3 linked regions of the Homo sapiens genome follow. The protein of the gene in region 1 interacts with the protein of each later gene in a biochemical or structural test. Each region holds a gene or a part of one and is shown in the gene's direction. Other genes may lie near its edges.

Region 1 (11,060 bases):
GGATAGTTATGCTGAAAGCTGAAAAATGAGTAGGAGTTGGCCGGGTGTGGTGGTTCATGCCTGTAATCCTAGCACTTTGGGAGGCTGAGGCAGGTGGATCACTTGAGGTCAGGAGTTGGAGACCAGCCTGGTTAACATGGTGAAACCCCATCTCTACTAAAAATACAAAAATTAGCCAGGTGTGGTGGCAGATGCCTGTAATCCCAGCTACCCAGGGGACTGAGGCATGAACATCGCTTGAACCTGGGAGGCACAGGTTGCAATGAGCCGAGATTGCACCATTGCACTCCAGCCTAGGTGACAGAGCTGGACTGTCTAAAAAAATATATATATATAAAGATTTTTTAAAAAAGAAAAGACTGTAGGGGTGAGGAAGAGCACTGCTGGCAAACATAAAGAGAGAAACATGGTGTCCCCTCAAGGTACAAAAAGGTCAGAATGGCTGCAGTGTGTGTGGAAAGCTGGGAGAGGCAGGTAGGGGCTAGAGTGTGTGGGCTGTGATGCTTAGGCTGTGGCTATGGGGTCATGTCAAAGAAAGTGGGTCTTGTGCTAAGGACCACAGGCAGCCAAGGAAGGAGGCTGGAAGAGAAAAAACATAAACCAGGTACGCCTGTCCCAGCTACTGGAGAGGCTGAGGCAGGAGGATCGCTTGAGGCCAGGAGTTGGAGAAACATCCTTTGTGCTGCATTCCTCAATTTGTCCTCCCCTAGCTTCTCAGAGTCCTTGGGAGGCTGGCTAGGTGAGAATAGTGATAATGCTCTTTGCAGATTTAGAAACTGAGACCCAGTGAGATCATGACTTGCCCGAGGTCACACAGCTGTTGTATACATATGGCAAGACTGGAACCCAAGTCTCACTCCAGAGCCCCTAAAACTAGGGAGGTAGATAGATTCTCTCCTTCACTCACTCATTTGTTCATTCATTCAATATACTGTACCTGTCTACAACCATACCACCCTGAATGCACCCGATCTTGTCAATATACTATACCTTATTCTCCGCCAGAAACTCTTCTTAAAAAGGATTTCAGCAACAAATTAGACCAAGGAAATAGATGAGACCAGGCTATACAGTCTGGGCTTTCTTCTGTCAGCAACAGGGAGAGGATGGCTTCTGAGAAGGCAGATTGCCCCTCCCCACTGAGGTACCCCCTGTCCCCCAGGGCAGGGAGGGTCATTGTTCTCATTTCAGGGAGCATTCTGCCACAGGCAGCAGTTTCTTAGAAGCAAATTGGTGTTGAGTAAACCTCTACCTTCTGCCATCATTTGTTCTCTCCAGCCCACAGTATCTGGAACTCTTGGGGAACAAGGAAGCAGATTTCCTAGTGGCAGAAAGAACACTCCACCCACTGTAGCTGCAATCCCCCTGCACTGTGAGCTAAGTGAGAGCAGGGAGCTCTCCTGTTCACCCTGGATCCTCACTGAGCCTAGCACAGTGCCTGGCCATAGGAGGTGCTCAATTAAGATTGGTAGAATGAATGAATATTTAAAGAGAGAGAAAGGGAAATATGAGGAAACTTATGTCCAAGATCTGAAGGCCACTCTGTGACCTCAATGAAGAGGAGTTGGCCATATACTTGAATCCTTTCCTACTTATTCAGGGTCTCAAAGGGCCTTGGCTTACTCAAATATCCCGGGGAAAAGAACTGGAAGGAGGAAAGGAGAAAGGAGTTACTATTCCTTCAATATTAGTGCACGGTAGGCTTTCCATTTGTTATCTCTTTTAATTGTCCTAACAACCCTGAGAAGTTGATGGCCTTCCTCTATTTGGGAGAAAACAAGACTCAGAAGGGGGAAAGGGAGCTTGTTCTAGGTCTCTAGCTAGTAAATGCAGGCCTGGAGTTTAGAATCAGGGCTCTTTCCAAAGACACTGCATCTGAAGATGTCAGAGGCATTCTAACCAGAGTGACTCCATCTTGAATAGAGGCTGGATAAAATGAAGCTGAGACCTGGCTGGGATGCATTCCCACAAGGTGAAACATTCTTAGTCACAAAATGTTTACAGTTAAGAGTTAAGGGAACAGGTTAATAATTTACTAAACAGACATTTCTTTACTTCTCTAATAAACTTGCTTTTACTTTATTCTGCGGATTTGCCCCGAATTCTTTCTTGTGTGAGATGCAAGAACTCTCTCTTGGGGTCTGGATTGGGACCCCTTTCTGGTAACAAAGACCCCATGGACCAAGGGCATAAAAAGAAGGGATGTCTAAGACTTGCTGGTTCTATGGCAGGCAGAGGCAGAAAGAGCCCCACCATCATTCCCAGCAAATGGGAAAAGTTCCCAGTTGCAGATATTAGGGGTGGGATGGGGCGGGGGTAGTCAGCAACCATAGACTTAGACCCTGAAGAGGCAAAAAAGGAGGGCCATGTTCTTGGGTCAGCAGAGCTTCTACTCAGCTTCTTCAGCCTCTAGCTCTTTCCTGGTGCTAGTAGCACATTCTCTAGTGGAGGCATCCAGATGGCAGGGAGGGTCCAGGAAACAGCTGAACATGCTGAGCAGGCCTCCCTTGTCCCCGCTCCCCATGGCCCCATGGATCATCCGGTGCTGCAGCTCATCTCATTGGCTGGCTTCTGGTTACTCATCTCTCCTCTTCTCCATCTTCCCAGCCTGTGGTTGCCGTGGAAACATAGAACAGTGACCTCACCATAGGATGAGGGCTGGGGAGATGCTGTTCTTGGCAGGCGCTGGTCTTGCTGCCTGCCAGATGTTATATCCACATCTGGATCTGCCAAGGGCAAGACAGAGGAGTACAAAAAGGGACAGGGCTCACATTCTTCCCCAAATGTAGTCAGCATAACAGAGGAAGAGGATGCAGGTAGATCAGAGGGATGAGGAGAGAACTGTACATACTTAGAAGGGAGAAGGGTGTAAACCAGGAGGAAAGGAGATGGGGTGTGGCTTATGGGTTAACCTCGGTGACCCAGGTCTGAGCACCATGGCGAGGTGAGGGAAGGGCAGTGAGGGTAGTTGGTCTGAGGTTTGTCGAGTAGAGCTCCTCAAAGCCCCGTGCTGCTCAATTTGGACAGGCCCAAGAGAGGGAGCAAATGGATTTTCTGGCAGTGACCCCACCCCAACCCATTCTGAAAAACCTCTATAGCCCCTTTTTCAGTTGAAGCCCTTTCTAATCCTGTCCCAGAAATAATAAAACTGAGGATTAAAGAAGCAAAGCAATCTGCCTCAGGTAACTAACTCAGTAGGTAGTGGCAGAGCTCAGACTAGGTCTTAGGTGTCTGCACTATCCCTGGAGACAATAACAATAGCAGCAGGAGGAGCAGCAGCAGTGAACTTTCGTAAGTCAACCATGCTTAGCATTTAAATGTATTATCTCGGGCCAGGTGTCGTGGCTCACACCTGTAGTCTCAGCACTTTGGAAGCCGAGGCAAGCAGATTGCTTGAGGCCAGGAGTCCAACACCAGCCTGGGCAACACGGCAAAACCCTGTCTCTACCAAAAAAATGCACAAAAAATTAGCCAGGCGTGGTGCCATGCGCCTGTAGTCCTAACTACTCAGGAGGCTGAGGTGGGAGGATCCCTTGAGTCTGGGAGGTCAAGAATGCCATGAGCTGAGATCATGCCACTGCACTCCAGCCTGAGTGACAGAGTGAGACTCTCTCCAAATAAATAAATAGGCCAGGCGTGGTGGCTCATGCCTGTAATCCCAGCACTTTGGGAGGCCAAGGCAGGCGGATCACTTGAGGTCAGGAGTTCAAGGCCAGCCTGGCCAATATGGTGAAACCCCGTCTCTACTAAAAATATAAAAATTAGCCTGGCGCGGTGGCCCGCGCCTATAGTCCCAGCTACTTGGGAGGCTGAGGCAGGAGAATCACTTGAACCTGGGAGGCTGAGGCAGGAGAATCACTTGAACCTGGGAGGCAGAGGTTGCAGTGAGCTGAGATAACACCATTGCACTCCAGCCTGGGTGACAGAGTGCAAGACTCCATCTCCAAAAAAAAATCCCTTCATTTTAAAGATGAAACTGAAGCTGGCGTGGTGGCTCATGCCTGTAATCCCAGAACTTTAGGAGGTCCAGGTGGGCAGATCACCTGAGGTCAGGAGTTTAAGACCAGCCTGGCCAACATGGCGAAACCCCGTCTCTACTAAAAATACAAAAATTATCCAGATGTGGTGGCAGTTGCCTGTAATCCCAGCTACTTGGGAGGCTGAGGCAGGAGAATTGCTTGAACCCAGGAGGTGGAGGTTGCAGTGAGCCAAGATCACACCACTGCACTTCAGCCTGGGCAACGAGACTCCTTCTCAAAAAAAAAAAAAAAAAAATGGAGACTCAGAATGGCTTAAGTGAATTGCCCAAGGCCACACAGCTAGTACCCAACAAAATTCAGATCAGAACGCAGATCTGCCAGCAGCCATTAGCCCAGCCCCAGCTCTCCATCATTGCATTACAAGGGCCACATAAGGAGTCAGTTCTAGTTCCTGGCCACACAGTCCTTGAGAGGAGGCCCTATGTGTGAGGGCTGCGACCTTGAGTCAGAAATCATCTTTTCCCCCTCCTCCTCTCCTGGCACCTGTTCCAACAGTGAGATCACCAAGGCTCCATGCCCAGCCCTGAAGCCTGTCCCTATAGCTTTGGCAGAAATGAGCCTCTGAGTCTTCTGGCAACTGGACCGTCCAAAGGAATCAAGATCTTAGGGTGGGGAGAGGGCTCTTCCTCCCTGGCCTTGTTCTCAGAACAGTCCAGGGAAGGGAGGCAGGGTTTGCACATGGAGAAACAGAGTCCCAGGAAGGAGGGCCTGCCATACTCTACGCACGTGGCAGGCCTCTGGGCTCCTGTGTTGGCTCCTGCAGGCCCACCCTGGACAGGCTGCTGCTGGCTGAAATTCAGTTCGGCACTACTCCTTGGTGTGCAGGGCCTCCTGCCATCCCTCAGAAATTCATTTATACCTCACTTCCTTTGAGAAGTCTACATTGGGCCCTCAGGTCAGGACAGGACAGGACTCCCTTTAGAGGCACCACGCTAGTTTTATGTCTGGCTGCCCAGAGGTGAATGTGTGTCTTGTTCCCTGTTGTCTCTCTCCAAAGCAGGGCCTGGCACAAAGTAGGTGCTTTATTAACTGCTGAATTAATGAGTGAGCTCCTCAGAGCTTCAACTTGTTCACCTTTTTAAAAAGAGAAAATAATACAGTAACACCTACTTCATGGATTTTGCTTTAAAAGTCCAATGAGGCCAGGTGTGGTGGCGTGTGCCTATAGTCCCAGCTGCTGGGGAGGCTAAGGTAGGAGGATCCCCTGAGCCCCGGAGTTTGAGGCTGCAGTGAGCTATGATGGCGTCACAGTACTCCAGCCTGGGAGACACAGCGAGAGACTTTGTCTCTAAAAAATAATAATAAAATAAAAAGTTCAATGAAACAATACACCCAAAGCCCTCAGCATGCAATAAATAGCAAGACAAGGCAGGTCTTATTTTTACTGAAAGTGCTTAGTAAACTATACAGTGACAAACCACCGCACAACAGGCTCTCGAAAGGAGGCAGCAAATTACCCAAAAGTGCAGGCGGCTTGCTAGTGTGCACAGGCCAAAGAAAGGGCGGCAGGTGGGGAAGGCAGCCATGGGCCTTGAAGAGCTGACCGAATTGGCAGAATTTCTGCAGGAGGGGAGCTGGGAACGACCTGAGCTAAAGCTCGGAGCTGTGCGAAGAAACCGGAAAAGCCCAGAGCACTTGCAGGGGCGGGTGGGGAGCTAGATGGTGGGGTGGGGTGGGGACGGAGGAGGGCCAGCAGGAGACATTCCGCAGGGAGGGGCAAGCACGTGTGAGGCGGGCGGGGCGCGAAGGGTCAGGCTTTTGCTCAAAACAGGCAGAGGACAAGGTCAGCTCAGCCGCAGACCGAGCCGCTGGTGACTGTCTCCGCCACCAGGCAGTGAGAGTGAAGGGAGAGCGCGAGCTCTGAAGCCCGCTAGACTAAGCTTGCAATCTGAGCTCCATTCACCCCCTCCTATTTCTTGAGACCTTGTCAGTTCCCCTGTGAGCCTCGGACTCCTCACTTGTAAAACGAGGACAGATGCCCGTGCCAGAAGTCAACCAGAGCTTTCCCCGGCGTGGGCACCAGCCCAAGGGCGTTTTGCTTTTCTAGTCTCATCTCTGCTCTGACGCTAAGCTCAAAGAGGGACTGGGGGACGGGAAGATATCCACCATGGCATGCGCCCTAGCTCTCGGGCTGGTGTTGGCTGCTTCCTTCTCAGATTCCAGAGTGCCTAGAGGCCAGGAAAGGGAGAAGGTCCTACCAGCCTGGGGTAGGGACTCGGGGGCCAGGCACTGGCGCTGACGCAGGCTAGCAGGGCGCCACTGGCTGGTCCCCACCCACCTCGGTGGGTTGGGGGATGGGCGCACCAGCCCCTCCTGGGTGAGCCCTAGCCTGGGGCTTCCTATTTCGGGAGCCGGGGGCGTGGGCCACGTCTCCTCATGTGATGCGAGGGCTATTTAAAGCGGCAGCCCGGGCAGGGAGCCGCCGTCGGAGCCCTTGCACGCCTGCTCTCTTGTAGCTTCTCTCAGCCTAGCCCAGCATCACTATGGTGGACGCTTTCCTGGGCACCTGGAAGCTAGTGGACAGCAAGAATTTCGATGACTACATGAAGTCACTCGGTGAGCAAGCCGCGGGGCTCAGGATGTTGGCTTGGGGACTGGCTGGTGGCGTGCCTAGCCCCACGCAGCACTCCTGCCGCATCCCTCCTGGTTAAGACTGGGGAATAGGGGAGCGCGGAGATGGCAGCCTGGCCTAGAGCAGGTGGGGCCTGTTCAGAGGGGGCTTTGGTGGTCCAAATCTGGTTAGAGACCACGGTAGGGAGGTGGTGGAAGGAGGCAGCTGTGTGGGAGGCTCTTTCCAGGAAGAGGGATATGTGATTTGGAGGTAGGAGGAGGGTTTGGATAAAGAACACTGATCACAGGAAAGGGAGTGTAGCCAGGGGAGAAAAAGAACAGGGGCATGGGTAGTTTAGAAATTGGAGGAGACTGAACCCAGAAAGGGAATGGGGCAGCCAGGGAGTGTACAATGATGTAAACAAGTAGGAAATACCTAGGAGGAAAAAGATTAGTGGGGAAAAAACTGTGGATCAGTGAATCAGATATGAGAAGGACGTAAGACAGGAACCTGCAGTAAGCAGCAATCCCCATCTCTGCTTGGTTAGGGAAGAGAATTCTTGCTGGAGAATGCCCTTTCTCACCAGCCAGTCTGACCTTGTCCTGCAGTCTATGTATCCAGGCCTTCATCACTGTCTGTGAGCCTCGTGGTAGGGTGGGGCAAGAGGCCCATGATCAGCTGGGCCTTTCCTGCAACCCAAGGCTCACCTATCTGTGCGAGGGGTAGGCAGAGAAAGCCATTGGACTTCTGATGTGCAGTAGAGGGTCCCAAGGCAAGGTCAAGACCTGGGAGGGAGGATCACTGGTTTAGGAGGATGTGGAGAACTGCTGTGGTGTTGGGATGGAGAAGAATCAGGATTCAAAGAATCTCACAGGTGAGGAACTTGGAGATTCCCATACCATCTAGTTCAACAGGGAAACTGAAACCAGGAGAGTAGAAATGTATTATAACAATTCCACAGCAGAGCCAATATGAAAATCTAAGGTTTCTAGATCTGTAACCCAGAGCTCTTCCCACTACCCTACAGGCCCTGCGAGTGGGAAGAAAAGTAGAAACTGCTTAGCTAATGATTGACCTCAGCCCTTCTTCTACTGCTTTGGGCTTAGATGGAGAGGTCAAAGCTCTCAACGGCCTCTACCCTATCTTGGGCGCTATGCCCAGTAATTCTAGGCAGGCAGTCATTCTTAGAGGAGCAGCCCCCAGCCCCCACGAACACAGCCCAGCAGCTATTGGGAAGTTGGAATGCCCAGATTTAGTTCCTCCTTCCAAAGCTGGGCCAGAGCTGAGTCTTGAATTGAGCTGCAACAACTTTACCATTCTTGTTCCCTTATTCTGCCCCGAGTTGGGTCAGCGGGCTGGTCTCCCTGAAGTCCTGTTATCTTTCAGCAGCTTATGTTAAGGCAGCCAGCATTCTCATCGTAGGAATGGAAAGCCTGGGAAAATACCCTCCTCAGCTCTCAGTAAGTAGTGCTGGCTTCATTTCTAAGTAGAACCCAGATCTCCCTGAGTCTCCTAAATTCTGTCAGCTCAATATTCTTAGTTTCTCTTGGTTCAGACCCTCACTCATCCCGCAGTGGTTTCCTTTTCAAACACTCCATACCTCTGGGTAGATCCTAAGTGAACAGAGCTCCCAGTGCCGTGACAAGGTCCTGCTCTGTGCAAGGGAGTGTGATTGGCCTGACTCATCCTGATACCAAGGGGCAATGCCAAGTTCCTCACTGGCCAAGCAAGGGTGGGCTGACAGCATAACAGCAGAGGCAGCCCCTGCCCCTCCTGCTGTAGACCTAGGGCTCTCAAGGGGCAAAGAGGTCCCGTCTAGTACCAGTGACCACAGGCACAACTGCTGGCCTGGATTGAGTATGTGCTGGACAGAATCGCCCAGTGAAAATAGTCAACAGTTTTGGAGCCGAGGTTCAAATCTATGTCAGTAGTTTATTCTCTTTGAATTTCGACAAGACACTTCGCACTCTTCATTGTAAACTGGGGATAATCTACGCTTCGAGGCTGTTACAAGCATTAAGTAAAACAACCCATGTAGGGCATGTGCAGAGTACCTAGCTTCCAGCAAGCACTATGTAGCCAGGTACATTTGGAGACTTTACACACACCACCTCACTACACTGGGCTGCCTCCTGCCTCACCTTTGCCTTGGAAGACAGTTCAATGTTAAGCTGCTGGGGGGAGAGGGGGCAGTCATGATTAGTTCTTTGTTCTTTACTTGGTTGCAGGACACTTAGGACTTTGCCCAGTACCCAAGGAAGCCATGCTTGGGTCAGGAAGAGAGTCTCTGTAAAGCCTTAGACTGGGAGTCAGGAGACGGGTTTGAGTCTAACTCATTGTTGCTACCGCTTTAGGCTCCTCCTGAATCTGCACAATAGGACAAATACTTCCTTTGTACCTAACTCCTAGATCATAGATAACAGGCTTTGAAAATGATGGGTTGCCATGTATAAGGGACAAGAGCACTAACACTTCTTAGTTTCAGGGTAAAAACTTCCAAAGTTGGAAAACTCCTATGCCTAAGGCTTTGGAAGGGAAAGTCTATGTTTCTCTTCTTTCCTCAGCCTTATTCCTAAGGCTTTGAGAGCTTTTCAGGTGCCCTGGAAGGCAGCCTTATGCTCCAGCCTTGGGAGGTAGTATAGCTGAGCACTTAAGCAAGCTCTGGACTCAGACAATTCTGGGCTTCAATCTCAGATTTGTGACCCTGGGCTTTACCTCTGTTTTTGTATCTGTAACGTGGAAACAGTCTTCAGAAGAACAGGAAGAACTAAATGAGATAACATGTACAGTTCTTACTACACAAAAAGCTCATAGTACTTAATAGTAGCTTTTTTTTTTTTTTTGAGGTGGAATCTCACTCTGTTGGCTAGGCTGGAGTGCAGTGGCACAATCTCGACTCACTGCAACCTCCACCTCCTAGGTTCAAGCAATTCTCAGCCTCAGCCTCCTGAGTAGCTGGGATTACAGGCACATACCACCACATCTGGCTAATTTTTTGTATTTTTAGTAGAGACGGGTTTCACCATATTGGCCAGGCTGGTCTTAAACTCCTGGCCTCATGTGATCCGCCTGCCTTGGCCTCCCAAAGTGTGATTACAGGCGTGAGCCACCACACTTGGCCCAATAGTAGCTTATTCTAATCCCAGCTCTGCCACTGACTTGCTATGGCACTGCTGTTCCTTAAGTATCTCTCATCTAATGGGATCAGTTATCTGTGTTCACCAAACAGAACTAAGCGCAAGACTGAATTTTAAAATTCCCATGCAAAGGCTTTGAAAGATACAGTCCTCCACTTCCCCATACCCAGGCCTGAGAGTTATTCATTGAGTTTCTTGTACACTGCTTCTCTACCCCAGCTCATATACTCATAACCTTCCCCCTACCCTCAGGTGTGGGTTTTGCTACCAGGCAGGTGGCCAGCATGACCAAGCCTACCACAATCATCGAAAAGAATGGGGACATTCTCACCCTAAAAACACACAGCACCTTCAAGAACACAGAGATCAGCTTTAAGTTGGGGGTGGAGTTCGATGAGACAACAGCAGATGACAGGAAGGTCAAGGTAAGTCAGGGAAACAGGGGTGGGGAATGGAGAGTGCTGAGACTCTAAAAGAGAATAGGCTGGTAGTCTTGGCTCCCTGGTATTGCACCCTGAGGGGCAGACTATCATGGGGAATTTAAATGAAACAAGATTCATAAAGCCTGTGTAGTGCTGGAATGCCACTGATGCTAAATACATGTCAGTTCTGTCCTCTTGTTTTCTTCCCTCCCTTCTTGGGATTCATCTATTGTCTGCCTCGGAATGGGCAGCACAGAGCCAGGATGTTCTTCTGACCTCAGTATCTACTCCAGCTCCAGCTGGGTGACCCTGTGCAAGGTATGCAGTAGCTCTAGGTTTCTTTCCCCTTCCATAGATGGCAGAGTTATGTGGCCATGGCTGTGACCTGAAGTGCTTTAGGAATGATGCCCAGAAGTCAGGGCCCTCCACTGAGTGAGGTCATTGTGACCTCCAGCAGCAAAAAAGGCAGCCAGGAACTAGAAGCACCTACTCAGATGCCGCTTCAACTTCTAACTCCCAGACATGGCCAATGACCCTGACAAACTATTTCCAGTGTTGCCAGCTGACAGGCAGGAAGAGCTATGTTCCGTGATAGGGCATTCACCTTGTCATGAATGTGTTTGCAGTGTCTTCCCACCAAGCCTTAGCCCCTCCTCCCAGGGTTCTATCACCCTGCAGTGGCTGTCTTGGCAGCTTGCCTCAGCCTTCCAGGCCAGGCATGGGAGCGAGAGAACTTAAGGGCTTTGACCTCTATAGGGTGTCCCTATAGCAGTGTTCTATCATGACACTATCATTCAGCCCCATCAGCTGTTTCCTCTTCCTCATAGCTGTCCCCAGAAAGAACAGGATCACACAGGTGGCTGGCAGCAGAGCTGGGGATGGTGCCCAAAGATGGCAGTCTACCTTGGAT
Region 2 (10,531 bases), on another chromosome or scaffold:
GTTCGATCATAAATAATTTTTCATCCTACCATACAATGAATGTACAATATGCTATAGAATGATCCTGAAATAATTAGTTTTTATTTACCATATTTCTTTTACTCTTTCATAATTATATATAACACTATGAGCATTATCTTTGTGCATTAAGCTTTTCCCTCTTACTTTAGGTCATTTTATTTAGGATAGATTCCCAGAAGTAAAAATTATGTATTAAAGGGTTTGAGCATTTTTGTAGTTCTTTATACAAATCAGAAATTGCTTTCCAAAGGCATTATATTAAAACCATGTTTTAGAGTCTCAATAGCTTAATATTTACAATTGTTTTATAAAATTTATTTTCATTAATACTAGCATGCCTATAGGGCCTACACAAAATAAATCCCATTTCTTTTCAATATGACAGACTTTCAAATATTTAAATTTTCAAAATGTGTGCCTAATCAATTTGTACTTCAATGCAACTTCTCAGTTCTCCTGCAGACATTCTTTCTCCATGCCGAACATCCCCAACTTTCCCAGCATCTTTTGTCTGACAAATTTACCAGACTCCTAACTATCTGAGTCATAGTCTCCTAAATACATTCCATTGTGCATATGTCCCTCTTAATTTAGATATTTCAGACATGGCCTGACCAGCACAGAACACAGGGGGACTATCACTGCTTGACCAGGGCATCTATTTCCAGCACTGCAGACTAAAGTCACATTAGCATTTTTGGCACTAAAATACGCTGTTGCTCATGTTTATGTGCTATCATCTAAATCCCCCATGCCTTTTTCACATGAACTCCCATTAAGTGAGGGCTCCCACATCCTGCACTGATATAAATAATAGTATGCAGCTGAGCGAAGTTATTTATGTAGGTTCTAAGTAAACTTTAGTTTATTTATGTTTATTGTTCCAGAATGTTGAGATTCATCTGAATTCCTAAGTATGTATATTGATATACTTGATAAGTATTTTTTTCTTGCTCTGTCTTATGGTGCTGATTGATAACTATATTTATACTTTTTATATCTTGACTAAAGTCATTAATAAAGTTGTCATCTGGCTGGGCGTGGTGGCTCATGCCTGTAATCCCAGCACTTTGGGAGGCCAAGGTGGGCGGATCACGTGGTCAAGAGACCGAGACTATCCTGGCCAACATGGTGAAACCCTGTCTTTACTAAAAATACAAAAATTAGTCGGGCGTGGTGGCGTGCACCTGTAGTCCCAGCTACTTGGGAGGCTGAGGCAGGAGAATCGCTTGGACCCAGGAGGCGGAGGTTGCAGTGGGCCAAGGTCATGCCACTGCACTCCAGTCTGGCAACAGAGCGAGACTCCGTCTCAAAAAATAAAAATAAAAAAATAAAATAAAAAAATAAAGTTGTAATCTAACACAATCCCAAGTACAAAATCTCATACTATGTAATTAAGTCCTTTGATTGCTAGCAGCCAGAGTTTTTGGATATGGCTACTCAGCCAGCAATAAATCAGCAACTGTGGATCCACCCAAGTATCTTACTATTTACTTTAGTTCATCCGATTCCTGAAGATATCATGGGAGACTTAAATGACTTGTTGGAACTAAAATCAGTTGTGATTATATGTTTTTTCCATTAATTACTGTTAGAATGGTTTTATAATTCTGTCTAAAAGGAAAGTAAGTGATTTTAACCTGGATCTCATAAACTATCCTTATTTTCTAAGCACTTATAAACTAGCACATGCTAATATTAAATCTTATGATGTTCCAATGTTTATATTTCCTGACTTCTCTATAAAATTAGCAGTTCATCATAGGAAAAAGTCACTTATACTTCCACATGTGTTTTATAAGTTAATACAGTAGCAGACTTAGCCAATAATTATTGATTATTTCAGTACCCCAATAAAAAATATGATAAAGTAATATAAACAAAATAATAAAGCAAAATCTCTGAAATATCTATCCTACATATACACACACATATACATGTATATACACACATATATATGTATATACACACATGTATATGCTATATATGTATATTGTATATGTATGTGTGTGTGTGTATATATACTTTTTAATCCACATCAATATGCAAGAGGTAGGCTCTCTGCTTAGTTTACATAACATTAAATTACTAATAGCATGATTATTATCTGATTATGAGTGTTATTGTCAATTATCTTAAAATCAGTCATAAAACAACTCATATAAACTGTTTCTCAATGTTCAAAAATGTTTACTGATTTATTTAACTTCCAGGGTGCTTATTGGTTCTCCGTTAGTTGGCCAACCCAAAAACAGAACTGGAGATGTCTATAAGTGTCCAGTTGGGAGAGGTGAATCATTACCTTGTGTAAAGTTGGATCTACCAGGTATGTAAAATTAAAAAAATCTGGTTTTAGGCCAGGTGCGGTGAGTCACGCCTGTAATCCCCACACTTTAAGAGGTCAAGACAGGCATATCGTTTGAGCCCAGGAGTTTGAGACCAGCCTGGGCAACCTGACGAAACCTCATCTCTACAAAATATACAAAAATAGCTGGATGGGGTGGTGCACTACTGTAGTCCCAGCTACTCAAGAGGATGAAGTGTGAGGATCGCTTGAGCTCAGGAGTTTGAGACTGCAGTGAATGGTAATTGCGCCACTGCACTCCAGCCTGGGTGACAGAGTGAGACCCTGTCTCAAAAAAAAAAAAAAAAAAAATCAGGTCTTAAATTATGCCCAGTATTCTCACTGAAAACAGATTTTGGGCTGGGCGCAGTGTCTCACACCTGTAATCCCAGCACTTTGGGAGGCCGAGGCAGGCGGATCACCTGAGGTCGGGAGTTCGAGACCAGCCTGACCAACATGGAGAAACCCTGCCTCTACTAAAAATACAAAATTAAGCTGGGCATAGTGGTACATGCCTGTAATCCCAGCTACTTAGGAGGCTGAGGCAGGAGACCTGCTTGAACCTGGGAGGCAGAGGTTGTGTTAAGGCAACATCACGCCATTGCACTCCAGCCTGAGGAACAAGAGCAAAACTCCATCTCAAAAAAAAAAAAAAAAAGAAAAGAAAAAAAACAGATTTTAATCAACTCAAGAAAATATTAGAAGTAATCTGTGTGTCAGAATGGTCGAGCGGTCTAAGGCGCTGAGTTCAAGAAGTAATCTATAATCATTTTTCATATAATCATTTATAATCTATAATCATTTTTCTATAATCATTTATCTTCCAGATTGACATAGAATGCCATTTTGATTCCCTCTGTCCTTAATTTGCTTTAGAAAGTCATCAAGGAGCATACATAAATTAGAATACCGTACTAATTTTATAACTTTTAACTCTCTGCATTTTTCAGAATTCTTTCTAATTCAGTGGTAATGTGAAAGAACTTCTCCAAATAAACCTGCCCACCACATTCCCTCCACAAAATTTAACTTAGTGCCTGGTTTTCAAGAGGAAATAGAATCAGAGGAATTGTAATAGATAAATTTAATTTTAAAAATAGAATCACACAAGATAAATTTATATTGAAATAGATGTATTTGACATAAATAGTAGGAATGTGACCGGAAAATTCCTACTAAAATTATCTAGAAATTAGAACCCTGTCAATGTTCTATACAATATTACATACTATGGAAATTATTTATAGCCCCACAAGTTTATTTCACATATTGTATTTTTCAGTTCTCCTTTTTTTGAATTTTCTATTTGTTTGTTTTTATGAACTTTTTTTCTTTACATGCATAAGCATACTTATAATAGCTGCTTTAATATCCTTGCCTGATAATTCCAACATCTGGAATATCTCAACATCACTTTCCATTTATTACCTTTCCTTGAGGTTGCATCACATTTTCCTGTCTTGTCTTGTAATTTTGGATCATAACCTGGATTATATTTTTGAATTACAGGTGTGGAGATTCTAGATTCTGTTATATGCCTGTGAATAGTCTTAACTTTTTTTATTAGCAGGAAATTTACTTGGCTCAACTCAATTTCCAAGCATTGACTTTCTTGCAATGACAAGTAGTTAAAATCTCTATTCAGGTTTTATTTCAGCTGGGCTATTTGAAATATACTCTGCGCATTTACTATTCAAGTCATCTAGTTATTTGGATAAAATATATATGCATATTATAGAACTGTTGTTTTGTGGCTCTTTTTCTAAGATATACTACTCTCCTCCTCATTTTGCAGCTGCTGTCATTGCCCTCAATCTCTGTTCTCTTTTTATTCAGTACAGTAAGACTAGGAGTTCTATTTGAGTTTTAGCCACTGACCAGGGCCTTCCCTAGGTTGGGGGTGGGTTAGGGGTGGGGGACAAAAACAAAACAAAACACAAAAGCACAAAACTCATTTAGTGCCAGTATCTTCTTCCAAGTATGGATTCCCCTCCATTTTCTGCCACCTTTCTAGTGCCTTCAGGTGATTGTTTCATGTATTTTTTTTAATTCTTCCTAGAATTTATAGTTGTGATTTGCAGAGGAGCTGTTTTGTTAGGAGTTACTCCTCCCTTACTGGAAATTGGAATAGTTTTAAAATTAGGCTAGAGATTTTAGCCACATCAAGTACAGTAGGGAAGTTTCCACTGTAGTCCCTAATTGTCCCAGGAATGCTTTTTCTGGGTCAAGCTTTGTATATAAAACTCTAATCCAGATTATACAAGATCAATGCATACAATCGCCCAGCTCTAGGTGCTTTCAAAGCAAACCAGACTAAACTCTTGGACAAAGGCCATTGCGCAGATCAGGAAGTCTAACTGACCATTCCAGAATCTCTGCTTCCATTCCCCACTTTAAATCCACATACAGTCTTAACATGAAAACAACCTCTGGAACAAACAGTGAGACAAATCTTTCTCAACCTGAATTTTGCCTCTTTCTAATATTCCACTCTACTAAGCAGATTTAGAAGTTCTTGTTTTTCCTGTCCAGTCTTTTTTTCTTTTTTAGTGTGAGAAAGTGAAACTTCTTGCCAATATTGTTAGGCTGGCATGCTTCATGCTTCAGGACCCAACATTCCCTTCAGAATGTCAAATGCAGTCTCTTTACTGTGTTTCCTTTATCAAAACTTTCTGGACACTGCTCTAATATTCCTCTAGTTTCCTTTGTCACCCAAAGGATGTCCTCATGATTTTGGAAGTCATGGTCAAAAAACTGGTGTTTGAGTTTTCTTTTCTGATCTTCTACCCATTTCCCCTTTTCTTGCCAAAAATCGTGTTTCATCACTGGTCATTTATAACAAAGTTATAAGATTACATTATATCTACAGTATTATGAGATTAAAAACTTTGCTTTAATTAGCAAGAACGTGCAAAAAGCAATCCCACATTCTCATTGCCCTGCTAGTTCTGCATTCTTTCACAGTTCAGCAAAACTATCTGAAATAGTTTCTGGGACATGAGCCAACTCTTCAGCCTTAGCTTGTTCATTATATTCCTTAAGAAGACTTGGAAGACTAATTAGTTGAACCAAAAGAAGAATGTGCTATGATATGAGCAAAACAAATAGAATGTCTTAATGAGAGATGCTTAAAATTTCACTTTGTGAAACTTTTCCTCCCTCATAAAATTTTGTTCTATTTTTAGTTAATACATCAATTCCCAATGTCACAGAAGTAAAGGAGAACATGACATTTGGATCAACTTTAGTCACCAACCCAAATGGAGGATTTCTGGTAAGAATGGAGAGAATGATATTTATTGACAACAGATATGCTATCATTTTAAGTCTTTGTAAGATCTGTTATATAATTTTCAGTCTAATGATTTCTAATTTTAAAACAATTTTTTAAAGGCTTGTGGGCCCTTATATGCCTATAGATGTGGACATTTGCATTACACAACTGGAATCTGTTCTGACGTCAGCCCCACATTTCAAGTCGTGAATTCCATTGCCCCTGTACAAGGTACAGATTTTATGCAATGTTCTTGCATGTTTGAAAAGCCTATGCAATGAATGAGACGTATGTATACAAAGGAACATACCAAAAAGCTTAAAGTATTTTCTTAGCTACCAGCATTACCAATTTAGGTAAATGTTTGCTTTGCCAGTATATAACAAAATCTGACTGCTATTTTTGGAATTGATATTAGTGTAAATAACTTTACAAAGTCATTTTTAAACATCATAGATAAAGCTGTCATGCTGCTTATATTTAAAGAATGAGTCTCTTTGAAGAAAGAAGTAACTTCATTTGAGATATGCTCAAAAACTGTTTTATAAAAACTTATATAAAATTCATATTGAGAAAATTTGCAAAGATAACTCTCATACAATACTAATTAAAATTCAGTAGGTATGAATTTTATCCCACACCAATTGTTATTGAAAGCAATGAATATTTTTATCATCTTTACTTTTTCGAAAACTATTTTTTATTGCTAAAACAATGTGTCTACTTTGGAGAACATCAGTTCATCTTTTAAAATGAACTTCTTTCAGCCATGAAAGCACTTCATATGCCTCTGAAAAAAATAGATTCCAAATTTGACAATTGACTCCTTTTATTGCAGAATGCAGCACTCAACTGGACATAGTCATAGTGCTGGATGGTTCCAACAGTATTTACCCATGGGACAGTGTTACAGCTTTTTTAAATGACCTTCTTGAAAGAATGGATATTGGTCCTAAACAGACACAGGTATGTGACTTTGTGTTTTGATTTCTGTTGTTCTAAAGATAAAAATGCACAAATTTTTAATAAAACCAAATATTCTGAAAGCAAATTAATCAATAAAACTAAAGTTGAGAATGAATTTTATATCCATTTCCTGTTCTTATTTCTGATAAAAAGGACATTACTTTAAGCTGTGTTATTTTCTATTTTTTTCTTTTTTCTTTTTTCTTTTTCTTTTTTAGACAGAGTCTCACTCTGTTGCCCAGGCTGGAGTGCAGTGGTGCAATCTCAGCTCACTGCAACCTTCACCTCCCAGGCTCAAGCAATTCATATTTCTCAGCCTCTCCAGAAGCTGGAATTACAGGCATGCGCCATCACACCTGGCTAATTTTTTAAATTTGTAATAGAGATGGGGTTTCATCATGTTGGCCAGGCTGGTCTCAAACTCCTAGCCTCTGGTTGATACACCTGTCTCTGCCTCTCAAAGCATTGGTATTACAGGCGTGAGCCACTGTGCCCAACCTAGGCTGTGTTATTTTCTAAACAGAAAATATTATGAAAGCTGCCATTTTTAATGCACTTGAAAAATAACTCCTATAGAGTTCTATAAACTCATAGTTTAATTTTTACTTAAAATGGATATAGCCACTTTTGGTAATGTCAGAGCCGGGTGTCAGAGTTTGTAAAAACTAATCTGACATCCCAAACAACCCATCACATTATAATCTCTCCTCTCATATTATACAAATAAGTTAGTAACTGACCAGAGGATACTACTTAAAGCCTGTTGTCCTTTCTGTTAATAATTTCTTTTCCCTAAGTTAAAAGAAAATGCCCCTGGCTATCTCTGCATAAAATCAAATAGTTGTTTGTTTATCCCCCCAATTAATATCTATTTCTAAACACATCTCCTTTATTGCCACTAAATGAAGTGGAACTTCTCACACAGCTTTTCCACTTTAGATACTGAGTTTAATTTAATTACATTTAATTAAATACATTTGACTGATTTAATGTTTATTAAACTCATATGGGCATATATATTAAAATACAGGGCAGACATAATGGATAACAGGCAAATAAAATGTCAAAATGAAGTCAATGCCTCAGGTCAGGAATTAGCCCTAGAATCAGAGCCTAAAAGATTGTTGTGTGGTTTGGAGGCTGTAGAGAGCATAGGAGACTTTAAGATTATAGTACTGCAATCAATACAGTGATCTTCCTTTTTTTTTTTTTTTTCTGAGGACTTTACTTTGGGAGAAGTTTCTGAGGCACTGAAAAAGCAGACTGACTGCGTTAATGTTTGCCACACCTACATTAAATTTGGAACATAATATGTGCACATATATATACATACATGTGTCTTCATGTGTCTGTGTATATTTATGTCTCTCTTAATATTTTGATATCTATGTATATATAATTTTCTAAAAGGATGGTGGTTGAAAATTTCAAAGTTGAACTCAAACTTCAAAGTGAAATGTATTGCTGCATTCCAAGGCTGAATAGGTCTCTGTAGAGAGTGAGTGGAAGGGTAAGGTTATAAATATCCTGCTGGACAATAGAGAACTTGTTGAAATCAGTGTAAAATCATTAAAAATGAAATGGGCTTTTACGTATCACAAAATGTAATTTTCCCTGGAAGTGACTTATTTGCAATTGACCTTCTCAAGTGAAATTACTAGTGGATGGTAGGGGACCTTTTTATCCCGTCTTGCTACAGGGTACAGGGCAGCCTGCATCTTAACAGACCAACTCCAGGATGTGACTTGCTCTTCCTTCTGGCACCTGTTCCTCATGGACCTCCTTTTTTCCCTTCTGAGACCACTCTTCCTTCCTCCTTTCCTCGCTTCCCCTATCCCTTCTCTCCTTGGCCAATAAGATAGCATAGAGTCATAAGATTAAAGCTGGAAAGAATCTTAAAGGTCATTTGGCCCCCAACCTCAATTTATGAAGGAGACACGAGAGGCTAACTGATTTGTTTAAGGTCTTTCTGCTTGCTGATGGCAGATTAGAACACACACAGCTCTCTAATTGTAGCCCAGTTTGCTGTTGTTTTTTTTCTTTCTGAGGGCTCTACTTCTAGAGAAGCTTCAGAGCCAGTACCATCTAATGCCCCTGAATAGTAGATTTCAATCCTTTTCTATTTCATGAGGATGACTGTCCTCATCCTTCCTCAGGCAGCCTCTTGGCTGAAACCGTGCTAGGCTTGGCAATGACTCACTGCCTGGACTAATACCTTAAATGAAATGGCTTGTGTTCCCGCTTTCTCCACTTTTGCCCATGATGTGCTTTCTTTCCTTCTTCTTGTTTTGTCCATCCCATTTGATCTTCTTACCTAACTTTTTCCTTCCAAAGCTAATAACATGCTTGAAATATTTTTTACAATTTATTATACAGCCATCTAAATATTTTATTTTACCTTTAAATTCACTTATGTATATTACTCTTAAAAATTAATTTATTTGTAGCTATTTGTGAAAATTAGTGCAGCTGTGACATGTCTGAAGTTGGTCCACAACTTTAGAAAGAAAATCCATACGGCTCTTTTAGAACAATAATTACAGCTTCTGTGAAGATCTATGCCAGTGACTCCATTTTGTAAAGAAATAAATAACAGTCAATTGCTTATATGCTCAAGCTATTCTTCTGCAATTTCGATGTTTTTCAGTTAGAACTATAATTAATTTACATTTCTGTGTTGAGAGTCCTAAAAGAGGAGCTATTCTGCCTGTCCACCAGAGGAATTCTAGCCTGCCAGAGTGGGCAACATGAAGTTATATGTATTTTCTGGAGGGAACAATGGCTCTATTCAGACAAATTCAGGAGGGCCCTTGGGGTCCAGATGCTACCAGTGAATGGGAGGAAAATGAACTTACCCTGCAGCAGAAGAGTTCAGTTACATTTACCAAGATCCAGGACCTCAATCCACAGAGAAGAATATTTCTGAATGAAGCACCCTGCACAGTGTCGTTTACATTATCTTCTGACTTCACCCAAGGGAACCTGATTTTTAAAGAGAGAAGCTGATTATATTTCTGAATTTTTATGTCACATCTTGCTTTCATCATTGATTGTGGAGCTTAACCATATACATTCATTCATTTATTCAGATGTATGTACTAAGGGCTTACTATGTTCCAAGCTCTATGCTATAGCTTGGGTAATAGTGGGGAAGATGACAGACAAGGGTGATGCCTTAATGGTGCTTCTGTCTAATGCCATGTTTCTCCAATTATGGCTCATGGAATTTCTGCTTCCAAATCACTGGGATGCTTGAACTATACCCCAGATTTTCAAAATCAGAATCTCTGAGGGTGGGGCTATAAGCCTGCATTATATATAAGCAACCCATATGATTCTTTTCTGTTTGTTTGTTTTTTTGACAAGGAGTTTCACTCTTGCTACCCAGGCTGGAGTGCAATGGTACGATCTTGGCTCACTGCAGCCTCCACCTTCTGGGTTCAAGCAATTCTCGTGCCTCAGCCTTCTGAGTAGCTGGGATTACAGGCATGTGCTACCATGCCCAACTAATTTTTGTATTTTTAGTAGAGATAGGGTTTCGCCATGTTGGCCAGGCTGGTCTTGAACTCCCGACCACAGATGATCCGCCTGCCTCGGCCTCCCAAGGTGCTGGGATTACAGGCTTGAGCCACTGTGCCTGGCCCCATATGATTCTTAAACAGATTAAAGTTTGAGAAACACTGGACTAAGGCATAATTATTATATTAGTGTGCGTGAGTGTGTGTCTGTCTATCTGTGTTTGCTGCATACTGTAGATAATAGGCACCTCAAGAGCAAAGTCTGCATCATCTTCTTATCTTCGTCAGTGGCCAGCCCAGTGGTTTACTGTGGCACAGTAAGTCCTCAATGAGCACTTGTTGAGTAAATGTTTGTATCATATTGAGTCCAGTTTTGTATTTTTCTCTGATTATTGGACATTTAATGAG
Region 3 (11,257 bases), on another chromosome or scaffold:
TCATACTGCACAGTAGGAAATGTGAAAGCAGAAAATATTTAGATTGTGATTAAAACTGAGATTCCTGGAAAAACTGAAGTTCAAAATCTTTCTGGGCTCTCCCAGCTTCACTGATTCCATTCTTTTGATGGGCAAGCAAAGTTCACTAGTCTGCCAGTCAAATAGATGCTAATGGTAAAATTGGCTCTGTTTGACTTTTTGATGTTACACATTTGAAATGTGTTTCCATCTAAAAGGACAGGCTCCAATCTAAATGGTACCAACAAAATTACTTCAAACAAAATAGGAGTTCATGTCACTCAAGATGCACTAAAAGTTAAATTGCAAAATGGCTGAAAAGGAGAGGTCTTGGCTTCAGAAAAGAATAATAACTACCTAAAGAACAAAAGTTCGTGTTCTTGGCAGGAAATTTTAAAAAAAGAAAAATCATCTGGTGTGGTCATACAGTGTATCAAACTGAAGAAGACCCTTTCTTTACTGAGTTAAAATTAAGTCTATAGAATCCTAACTGGAGACAAGCCATGGAAAACTAAAGGCACTTGCAAGTTGAAGTTACAGGGCAATGGAAATGATGAGTAATTAAGGAGGAAGTCAGCCTACAGAGAAGACAATAGAGCAGGTACACACAGAGAAGCAAAGCCAACAAGTCATGAATTCCCTAAAAGTTGCAGAGAGTTAATTAGGTTCTTATCTTCCCAGTCTCCACTTTAAGTACCCAAGGGCTATAATTCCTGTCTTTGGGTTCTCAGAAAGTTCTTCATATCCTTGCAATTAACTATTCTTTGACTTGGGCTAGTTTAAATATGATTTATTTTTCACCCCTGAAAAATAACTGCCCTCTAACTGGAACATGCAAGTTTTCCAGACAGAGTAGAGTAGCAGATAGCCATAAGCAGCCTTAATCCTTCATATGACACATTTCTTTAAAAAAGTCTAAAGTATGGATGAACAATGTTTCCCCTTCATTGAACTTTTCCATGTCCTAAGAGATAAAATTCTTTTTTTTTCGGGTTCATCTTAACAAATCAAGACATTAGTGACTAGTTGAAGAAGTATGTTTATTCATTTGGGGAACAAACATTCATTGAGCATCAACTCTGTGTCAGGCTCTATTTTAGGAACTGTGAGTGAAAGAAGTTAATGAGACATGTTAACTTGGAAGTCCTTAAGATTTCCCAGAAGAGAGACAGATATGTCTTAAACGTAGTCTAGTACAAGGACTAGAAACCTGCTCAAATTAGCTTCAGAGAAAAAGAGAAACTATTATTAGGTTGGTCCAAAAATAATTGTGGGTTTTGCCACTGAAAGTAATAGAATGATACACAGATATTTCATGGATGTAAACCCAGGAAGAACAGTCAGATCTCACACAATGGCAAACAAAATTAAAAGACCTAGAACAATCTCTCTCCGTGTCTCTCTCTTTCTCTGTCTGTCTGTCTCATGCATGCACACCTCAGTTTCTTGGTCTCTCATATCTGTCTCTGTTTTTGATAAATGGTGCAGATTGGCTTTTTCTACACTCATTGAAGAAAATGAATGGGCTGGGCATAATTCCAACACTTTGGGAAGGTGGGGCAGGAGGATTGCTTGAGGCCAAGAGTTCCAGACCAGCCTTGGCAACACAGTGAGACCCCATCTCTATAAAAAGAAAAATTAAAAAATTAGACAGGTGTGGTGGTGCATGCCTGCCCAGCTACTCGGGAGGCTGAGGTAGCAGGATCACTTGAGCCCAGGAGTTTGAGGCTGAAACGAACTATGAATACCACTGCACTCTAGCCTAGGCAGCACAAAGCCCCATCTCAAAAAAAAAAAAAAAAAAAAAAAGGCGGGGGGGAAAAAAGAAAGAAAATGGTTGTACAAAGTGAACACAAATTTCCATTTCATGTGATCAGCAAAGATTCTAGAATCTGTATACCATGAATGTAAATCCCTAGGAGATTGATCGAGCTTGGTCAGGTGTTTGGCTTAGCGACAAGGAGGCAGGATTATGTGACTCAGTGACTTCTAGAAGGGGATCATGGAAGACTCTGAGAAAGCCCTATTGGCAGAGCTGGCAAATAGCTTTGCATGTCTGCCACAAGCATGAAAACAAGTAAGGCCAGTCAACCGTAGTTGTGCTAGAATCGAAATATGAATATGATTCATCAGTGTATTGATGGGTCCAGGAAGCTAGGAAATCTAGAATTATTTTATTTGTTTTGTTTGTGTTTAAGTTAGGAGTGTCTCTTTTATTTTGGCCATTATGCACCCCAGCCAGTGCTTAGAGACTTGTGTGTGAGTCAAGCTCAATGGATTCTAAGCTTTACTCACTCATCCCATGGATTCACTGAGTAACATTTGAGAAGCCACTGGTTACTTCACTTCAAAATTACTAGGACTTACCTAGAAGTTCATATTTACCACCCTTTTCAGGTCTAGGGAGAAGAATGTGGAATTGTTAGGAAACTCATTTCAATGTATTATAATAACTATTAATATTTATTAGAAATTTATTTACTAGGTATAGGACTAGACTCTTATAACAAAAATGTATAAGATTTCAGAGACCCAGCATTTAAATGAGAAGGTAGAATATACACATATAACTCAATAATATATTACTCTGTAATACATACAAAAGAAAGTTTATTTGGGGGAAAAAACAAAAACAAAAAAAAAAAGCTAGAGGAAACCAGAGCCAAGAAAGAAGAATGATTAGTTCTCAGTGAAGAAAATGGGAAAGGCTGGGCTAATAATATAGAATTTGACTGGAGCCTTGAAGTAGAATTTGAAACAATGGAAGAAAAAAAGAAAGCTATTCTAAGTAGAAAAATAAGGAATTGACAATGAAGAATGGGAAAGGCAGGCCAGTGAACTCGTGAATTTGGCCTAAACATAGTGTGCAAGAGGGAAAGATAGCCACGGAGCCCACAGAGGTGAGTTGGAGCCAAATCGTGACCTTAAACCCTAGGGTACTTTGAATGTCCTGAAGACATCTAATGATTTTCAGCAGATCAGTCCTGCATTTTTGGATAACTGTGACAACAGGTATAAAAGATGAACTGGAACAGGAGAGAAGGAAGCACAGAGAGATTATATGGGAGTTTGTCACCATGGTGAAAGATCAAAAGGGTTTGAACCAAAGAGAGATTAGCAGTGGAACAGAAAATAGGAGATGGCACAGAAAACCCTAGTAGGGTGTAAAGACAGAATTGGAATGGGATGTTAGCAGGGGGCTGGTGGTGCACCTGGGGAAGAAAGCAGAGGTTTCTGGTTTGGGTGATTGTCTATATGAAAACGGGATAAACAAAGGAGGGCAGGGCATGACGATACAACAGATCAGAAGGAAACACTGGGGAAACTTATCTGAGCCGTGTTCCCCAACAAAACTCTGTCTTGAGCTAAGGAAAAGAAAAAGAGGGGAAGGCCTCACTTCACCCCTGAGTGCTTTTTGGAGTAGGGTCTCTGGGTCTCTCAAGATCCTTTCAAGTGGCCAGTGAAGTCAAAACTATTTTCATAACAATACTGAGACGTTACTGCGTTTTTCACTGTGTTGACATTTGCCCTCATGGTGCAAGAACAAGGATGGGGACTGGTGGTCATTGTATTCTTCATCACTGGGCACTCACAGGAAGAGAAAGGGAGAGGGACACGGAGAGGCCAGCAGATCAATGAATTTTAATGCCACGGAATAGGAAAAACCATTGATATGGTTTCAGATTCCACATTGCAACTTTAAGAAACTACCACTTGTTGAGTTTTGGTGTAGTATCAGGGGATTATCCAGAATTATCTCCTGTTTTTCTAAGTCCATATCTGTGTAACACCAGATTAATCAATATAATTTCACCAAAACTACATGCCGTAACAGATTGGATGCAGAAGCAGATCTGAGAATCCAAATGTCTGTTTTTAAGCCAGATATTTAAAATATTAGCAAAAATGTAAAGCAATGCCACTCTTCTCCCGGATTCTTTCATTTGGAGAAATATAGTTATTTTTCATAAAATGTACATTATTTATGTTCACACATAATAGGATTTTTGTTAAAGGACTTACTGAGTAAAGGGCTCTTGAGACCAAAGAGTTTGAGAAGCCCCAGCTTAACCTTCCATATTTCCTGCTCTGAATGTGGTGTCCCTCACAACTGCAACTAGGCAGGAGAGCACCCTGGAAGGGGTTCTCAAACTACTTTGTCTCAGGAACACTTTATCCTCTTAAAATTAATGTGAGGCAGGAGTTTGTTCTTTGTTTCTAAAAGTTTTGCCTGGCTCTGGAAAATCGTAGCTCCTGACTTATTCTGCACTTCATGACAGTGTAATGTTAATTTGTCCAGTTCTGAGAACAAAAACCAAGAAGGATGCATGTTATTTCCCCCCACCCCCAGAGATAAAACACAAATTCCTGTCTCACATTAAAGGAAGTGTCCTGCCTCCCAAACACAGGTCTGTTCCAAACACTTACTCACATTTCAGTGAGTCAGAAGGAAACAGACAGATATTCATCTCCCTGAAACCTGGCTGACTTCCTTCAAAAAGTCTGTAAGGAGCGTCAAAATCGTGTCACCGGTTAGTGAGCAGCCACCTAAGAGCTCTCAGGTGATAGCCGGAGTTTTAGTAAGCAGGTGAGTACCCCAGACAATTCAGAAAAAAATGCCTTCAGGTGTTTGTCAAGGTGAGTAAGTGCAGCCAGTAAGTGACTGATAAGAAAACAGGAAAGAGCCTGGGACTATATAATTTGGGTTCAAAGGGTATTAGTCATAAGCCATCAGCAGCAACATCTGATGCATACCAATTTAATACTTTAACAATGTGACACATCAGCCCTATCTATAGTAAAGAGAAGAGCTTGATTTTTATGAATTATTAAGTCCTTCCCACCTTGAGCCACTTTGCTTCCTAGAGGCAGTATCTCAGGCATCCCATTCAGCTCATAGTAGCATTCCATGAAGATCTGGAATGATGACAATAATGATGATTATTAGACTCATAACTCCTTAAGCTTGATTTATGAAAACAGTTCGTTCCTTCACAAAAGTAGTCACTGGAAGAATTCTGGTTTCAGCAATGTGCTGGAAATTTGTGGCCAAACTTTTGGATAAAACATAAGATTCAGACAAGAAAAATTAATATCCTATTTCTTAGGTTTTTAACTAAAAATCTCGGATATAGAATGTTCTCTTTCCAGATGTGAGACTGAAATAATGGAAGAAAATGGTCACAGTCTATGTCATGGTGTAATGTAGACAGGGAGAGTCACAAGTGCATGTATGGGCTCTCAGCCTTTTCTCTGGCCTTGAAGTTAATCTCCTAAACTCAGTCATTAAATCAGCTCTTAATTATCTCGGAGGAGAGGAAGTAATGATGATTTCTCTCTCTCTGTCTCTCTGTCACACACACACACACACACACAGCTCTTGCAGCAGGTATTGCTTAAATATCACCTTGGATAATCATAACTTGTGAGCAGATCTTCTTTCCTGATGAGTTAGTTTCTAACCTGGTCATTCTGCGCTTATTTTTGTCCCTTTCTCCACCCACTTAGGAAAAACAGAGAAAGGGACGCACCGCGCAGCCCCTAGGCACTGTGGTTTAGGGCTAGTGCCCTCGGCACCCGCTGCCAGGAGCCGGGCGCTGCCAAGGGCTGCGGAGGGGCCACGTTCTCCCGGGGACTGGGGCATCTCCTGCGTGCTGGCGACAGGCTGCGGGGGCGGAGTGGTGCCAGGGCGGGCGCTCGCCCGTCGGATATGCCCACCCGTCCCGTCCAGGGCAGGAAAGCCTGCCAGGGCGCCATCCCCATCCCCACCGCCTCCAGGCTGCCGGGGCTGGGCCGCTGTACGGGAGCCAAGGTGCGGTGCCCCGCGTGTGGACGAGCCGAGGTGCAGCCCGCGGGGCCGCAGGGCCGGGGTGGGGCGGGGCGCGGCCGGAGCAGATCCGGTGTTTGCGGAATCAGGAGGGGCGGGCTGGGGCGGGCCCTCGGCGCTGCAGGAGCTGCCCAGAAACTTTTCCCTGCTCTCACCGGGCGGGGGAGAGAAGCCCTCTGGACAGCTTCTAGAGTGTGCAGGTTCTCGTATCCCTCGGCCAAGGGTATCCTCTGCAAACCTCTGCAAACCCAGCGCAACTACGGTCCCCCGGTCAGACCCAGGATGGGGCCAGAACGGACAGGGGCCGCGCCGCTGCCGCTGCTGCTGGTGTTAGCGCTCAGTCAAGGTAAGCGGGGATTTCGCTCTGCATCGGCTGCAGGAGGGACCCGCGCGGCTTCCTGGGGCTCGCTGGAGGGATTGGGCGGAACTAGGGAGCGAGCTCCGTGTGTTCCCTCGGATTCCACGTGGACTCGGGCTCCCAGCCACCAGGACCTGCTTGGAAAGAGATACTTCTTCGTTCCCTTCCTGCTATCCCAGGCCTTGCGTCCCCATTAGGCGCGTCTCGCCCTGTCTGTTAAGCACCCTCCAAAGTCATCTCAGTGAGTGCTTTGTTTTAGGTACACACACGCACACACACACACACACACACAGACAGACACGCACGCACTCAAGCATGGACAGTGTGGGGATCCGCGGGTGTCCTGGAGACCGCGAGTCCTGCAGCCCAACTTCCCCTGGCTCAGACAGGTGCCGCGCCTGCCAGAGACCAGGGAAATCCGGAATCCATTGCTGATGGCGGCCTGCAGCTCCCCAGCGCGGTGCTTGCTGGCTTTGCAGAAGCCTGCGAGCCCCAAAATGCTTATTTTTCAACCCAAGGATGTGAATAATGCCTCTATTTCTTACTTGAGGACGAAGCGCTGTGTTTCTTCCCGGGGGGACTTGGAATAAACCAAGCGCCACTTAAATACTTGGCAGAGGGGAATTCTTCCTTCCCTTCTGCCTTCCTCTTATTGTTGTAACATTGTCTATTCGACGAATGTAAACTTAGGCTAGGAAAAGTTCTTTTCACTTCTGGATCCTAGATGCCGCAATGAGAGAATAAGCCGGAGCAGCCGCTCTAACTGTAGTGCTGTGGCAGTGGGGCCCGCCCACCTCCTGAGTTCTTTTACACTAAGAGGAGGAAATAAGGCTGGGGTGGAGAGCTTTTGTGGGACCATCGCCTGAGTACTTTTTCCCTGACCATTAGGCAGAGCTAGAGTGTGGTCAAATTTAAGAATTTTAGTTTATTTGGAGGGAGAAGGAGACACGTTTGTATAATGTAGTTTGAACAGCGATCAAAACAAAACAAAAAAGTTGTCTCTGATTTTAAAGTGTGTGTGTGGTTTTTTTTTTTTTTTTTTACAAAGAAGATAAATATTTCCTAAGCTGTCCTCCTTTGAGACTGACATTCAGCCACTTGCTATTCTTTATTGTGGAGGAATGAATCCTAGTCCACGTCAACCTGGTGGCATTTTCTCCAGGTCAGAGATAAGAGAGAAATAGCACCACTGTCCCCAGCCCGAGCAGAGAATGGGCATCTTAGGTTTTCTGTCTCACCTGTATTGGGTGCTTCAGATACTTTCTCCGGGAACCAGATGAGTTGTTTTGAGGGGCCACCAACCCTAATCTACGGATTTCAGGTAAAGTTGTACTTGACATTGAAAATGAGTCTCTGGAATACAACTAGAGCTAATAGAAATATAAACCCAAGCTTTTCATCTCTCTGTAATTACCCAGTATTAAAATAAGCTGTGGAAACATAACATCATTTTCTTATCTTTGAAATGTTGAGGCTTGTTATGTAAAGAGCAGTGAGAAATTCTTTAATGGAATGTAACGCTGCAAGGCATGAAGTCAGGAACAGAGACTTAACCTGGAGTTAATAAGGACACCTCAGGGCAAGCAAGCAGAGATGATCGAAAATAACATCTGCAAAAGTTTTGTGCATTTATTCCCTCCTCCTACTCCAGCCATTTGTATACTCAAGGAACAGGTTTTCTCTTAATTTAAGATCCTCATAAGAAAGCTCTCTCATTTGTGATATCACTTGAGGTTCCTGGAGAAGCAGCATCGTTTTTTGGTACCATGAGTATCCCAGGTTAACATGAATAAGTGAAATCTCTAGCTCAGTAGTATCTAAAATTTTGTATGGCATTACCCTATCTGTATAAAATTTCTCATTCACTATCATTACACACACACACACACATAACTGTTATAAAATTATAGTATGTACAATTGCATCATATCACATACAAAAATTCAAATTTAAAAGCTATGTATGTGACAGAGCTTCATTATGATGATCTTAAATTAAGAGAAAACCTGTTCCTTGAGTATACAATATGCCGTGTTATGTATATACAATTGTATATACATATATATACCTGTTAATATGTATAAAACACATGTGTGTTTAGACATCTTGTATCATCTCTAGCATACATGCAAACCACTTTAAAAACATATCACCTTCAAATCTTATTTTAACACTTACATTCAAATTTGCTTTCCAGAAACCTTTTCACAGGTGCTTAAGAAGAAAATGTACTCATAGTTTAGTCCTATATTTATCACCTTTCAGTGCTCATTTCTAAGTGCTTAATACCATGAAAATGGTAAATGGGCAGTCTGAGGATGAAAAAGAGAGAACATAAGAGGCCTAGATAATCTATAAACTAAATATAGGCCATTAGCAGAAGGCAAATGTAATTTTGAAATGAAGGCCATCACGTATTTTCTCCAGTATGTTCACAGGTCAAGGATAGTCCTTCCACCCAGGTTCTAGACCACATCTTTTCTTACTATCCCTGAAACCCTGCCCCAGCACTCATCCCTCTTCAGTGCACGTCTTCAAATTCTCTCCCTAATGTAACTTCCCCTCAGTCTGTAAATATTCTAATTTTTCTTATTGTAAAAAAAATATTTCTTTTGATATTTAATTTCCTCCTGAAACATCCTGTACTTCTGGCTTCTGTTCTCTTCCTGTTTTTCTCCTCCTTTCCTCGCTGCTCTCCCGTCATCTCCTTCACAGGCTCTTTCCTTGTTGGTGTTTGCAGAGTTTCATCCTGAATCCTCCTCTTCATTCTGCAGATTGTCTCTGGGCCCATTCCCTGCACAGGTCCCTATCTCCAGCCAGCCTCCCCTTCTGAGTTCCAGATCAGTATTTCCATCAGCCACCAAATTTCTCCAGCTAGACAGTCTGTAAGTAAGCCAGATTCAACATTTCCAAAACTGAATTTAATACGTGTCCTCCAGAATTTTCTCCTCTATTGGCTACCATTGTTTAATGGCAGTATTATTATCACACAAACATGAAAGCCAGGAATTTGTCCCCATGTTTTCAACCTCACAGCCACTCTCCAAATTCTCTTGGCTCTCCTCCCATCCATGCAACTCCTGCCACCCAGTCAGTCCCTCATCTTATGTCTGTATGTAACTTTTAAACTGGATTTTCTTTTCTTATCTCTCCAACCCATTCTCTTCATTTTCACTAATGATATCTTTCTAAGACACTTATATGTTTCCAATTACTGCTTTGTTTCAAATGTTAGTGGCTCCCCATCTCAGGTAGGGTAAAGTGCCAATTTCTTGGCATGTCATAAAAAGGTACATTCTACCTATCCAATCTTTTCTTTACTGTATGCTTTCCTGAACACAAATACACATTCACACACACACACCACACACATGCCCACACATGTACACACTCTAAAGCCATCTATATACACCATTCTTTGTTATGACTACACCTGATCATACCATATTTAGTGTGAAAATATTTTCCAAATACTCCCTTTGCCTTCATTGCATTGTTGCTTTCACCCCTTTTCACTCATCTCTTTGCAACTGACCATTATCCAATGCTAGAAGGGTCAATCCCAAGCAAAATTATAAAGTAGAGAACTTTTACTTTTGCAACAAAAAGGAAAGCTTGAGGTAACCTACCTTTGCTGGGTCCCACCCTAAACCACCTCTCTGGTCTCATCCTCAGCCCCTTAATGGGACTTAGGCCGCCCTCTGATAAAGTAACTTTGCTCCCCTATGGCTTAGCAGTTATACCTGCCCAACCTCAGCTAAGCTTTGCTCTCTTAATACTAGGTCCTGAGCCACTGTTTGACTTAAATTTATGGACTGGGGTTTAGGATTCAGTATTTACAATGGCTCATATATTTCTGATGTATGGTCTGGTTTGGAAGTGATTGCTTAAATATCATCACTGCCTCCCCACTTTCCTAAGATTAAAATTCCAGTGTTACCTACCCCTTACCACCTTGTGGGATGATCACCAAGACAGGTAGATTTCAACATCAAGAGTTAGTGGCTGTGAGCGGCTGTGTCAGTTAAATTCCTTCCGAAGTGGATGATGACTACTCCCTGTCTTCATGTGCTGACAGCCCTGGAGATATTAAAAGGTAGAAGCTTGTTAATGTAAAGAGATGAGCTTCTCATGATGTAATTTTAGACATTCAGCAAAATAAAGACACATGTTCAGTCAATGTGTATAAAGTCAAGAATTTCAGGAAGAATGGGGAAAATATTTGGGGCCAAAAGTGTCCAGGCATCACATAAATTCTACCACTAAAGCCATAAGTCTTGACTACCAACACTGCTCAGCTTGGGATATTAGTAAAAGATTTAGCACAGCATAAAACAAGAGAAACCATGAAAGATCACCGCTCTGATTGGCAAGTGAAAGAAATGGAAGGTTGGTGGAGTTCTTTTTTTCCAGTTGTTCAGTGACCAATCATTTACCAGCAGAACATACAGAAGAGTGGCTCCCTACAGGGGAGAATCCTAGCACTGCAAATCATGAGACAATAGACTCTGTGTATGACAGTGATTCCTATGCCCCTTCAGGTGATCCATAGAGGCTTTATTGATCTGGCTACAGTGAATTTCATAAAACTAATACTTGATAATATTCTTATAAGGTATCTACTTTATGTAAGGCTGTGTGTTAGGCTCAAGGTGGAATCAGAGAAAACTTAAAACATGGCTGAGAGAGGTTGGAGTTTATTTGGAAAAAAATCCAAACATGGGGAAAGGAAATTGTCTCAGCCCTGAAGCATACTTAACCAATTTCAGCCCCTTGTCATCTTCCTTTCTAGCAGAAGTCCATTTATTGAGTTACCATCCTCTTCTGCATAGCTAAAAAATTGAGGTGATGCTGAAGGGTGATTAGGCTGGTCCCAGGCATCTGGGCTGTGTCTGATTTAGCCATGGGCATGTAATGCAAGGTTGACCAATGAGATCTGCTGGGTGACTTATGGGAAAAGAATTTTCATTCCTAAGAGAGATATTTGTTAAAGAAAATATTGTCAAGTTTATATGTGAAATTTGGAACAACTACAGCCATCTTGCAACTGCGAT

The links.
Region 2: the proteins of FABP3 (region 1) and ITGA1 interact in a biophysical measurement, tested with the Homo sapiens proteins (one study listed by IntAct).
Region 3: the proteins of FABP3 (region 1) and ITGA2 interact in a biophysical measurement, tested with the Homo sapiens proteins (one study listed by IntAct).

The regions. Positions count from the first base shown.
Region 1 is NC_000001.11:31,368,478-31,379,537, reverse strand, and holds the start of FABP3 (fatty acid-binding protein, heart), read left to right. Parts: upstream 1-6,461; 5' UTR 6,462-6,523; coding exon 6,524-6,596; intron 6,597-9,947; coding exon of another isoform or gene 9,948-9,980; coding exon 9,981-10,153; intron 10,154-11,060. UniProt on the Homo sapiens protein: FABPs are thought to play a role in the intracellular transport of long-chain fatty acids and their acyl-CoA esters.
Region 2 is NC_000005.10:52,859,213-52,869,743, forward strand, and holds part of ITGA1 (integrin alpha-1 precursor), read left to right. Parts: intron 1-2,234; coding exon 2,235-2,347; intron 2,348-5,550; coding exon 5,551-5,639; intron 5,640-5,758; coding exon 5,759-5,870; intron 5,871-6,477; coding exon 6,478-6,605; intron 6,606-10,531. UniProt on the Homo sapiens protein: Integrin alpha-1/beta-1 is a receptor for laminin and collagen. It recognizes the proline-hydroxylated sequence G-F-P-G-E-R in collagen. Involved in anchorage-dependent, negative regulation of EGF-stimulated cell growth.
Region 3 is NC_000005.10:52,983,342-52,994,598, forward strand, and holds the start of ITGA2 (integrin alpha-2 precursor), read left to right. Parts: upstream 1-6,010; 5' UTR 6,011-6,127; coding exon 6,128-6,191; intron 6,192-6,748; exon of another isoform or gene 6,749-6,945; intron 6,946-11,257. UniProt on the Homo sapiens protein: Integrin alpha-2/beta-1 is a receptor for laminin, collagen, collagen C-propeptides, fibronectin and E-cadherin. It recognizes the proline-hydroxylated sequence G-F-P-G-E-R in collagen.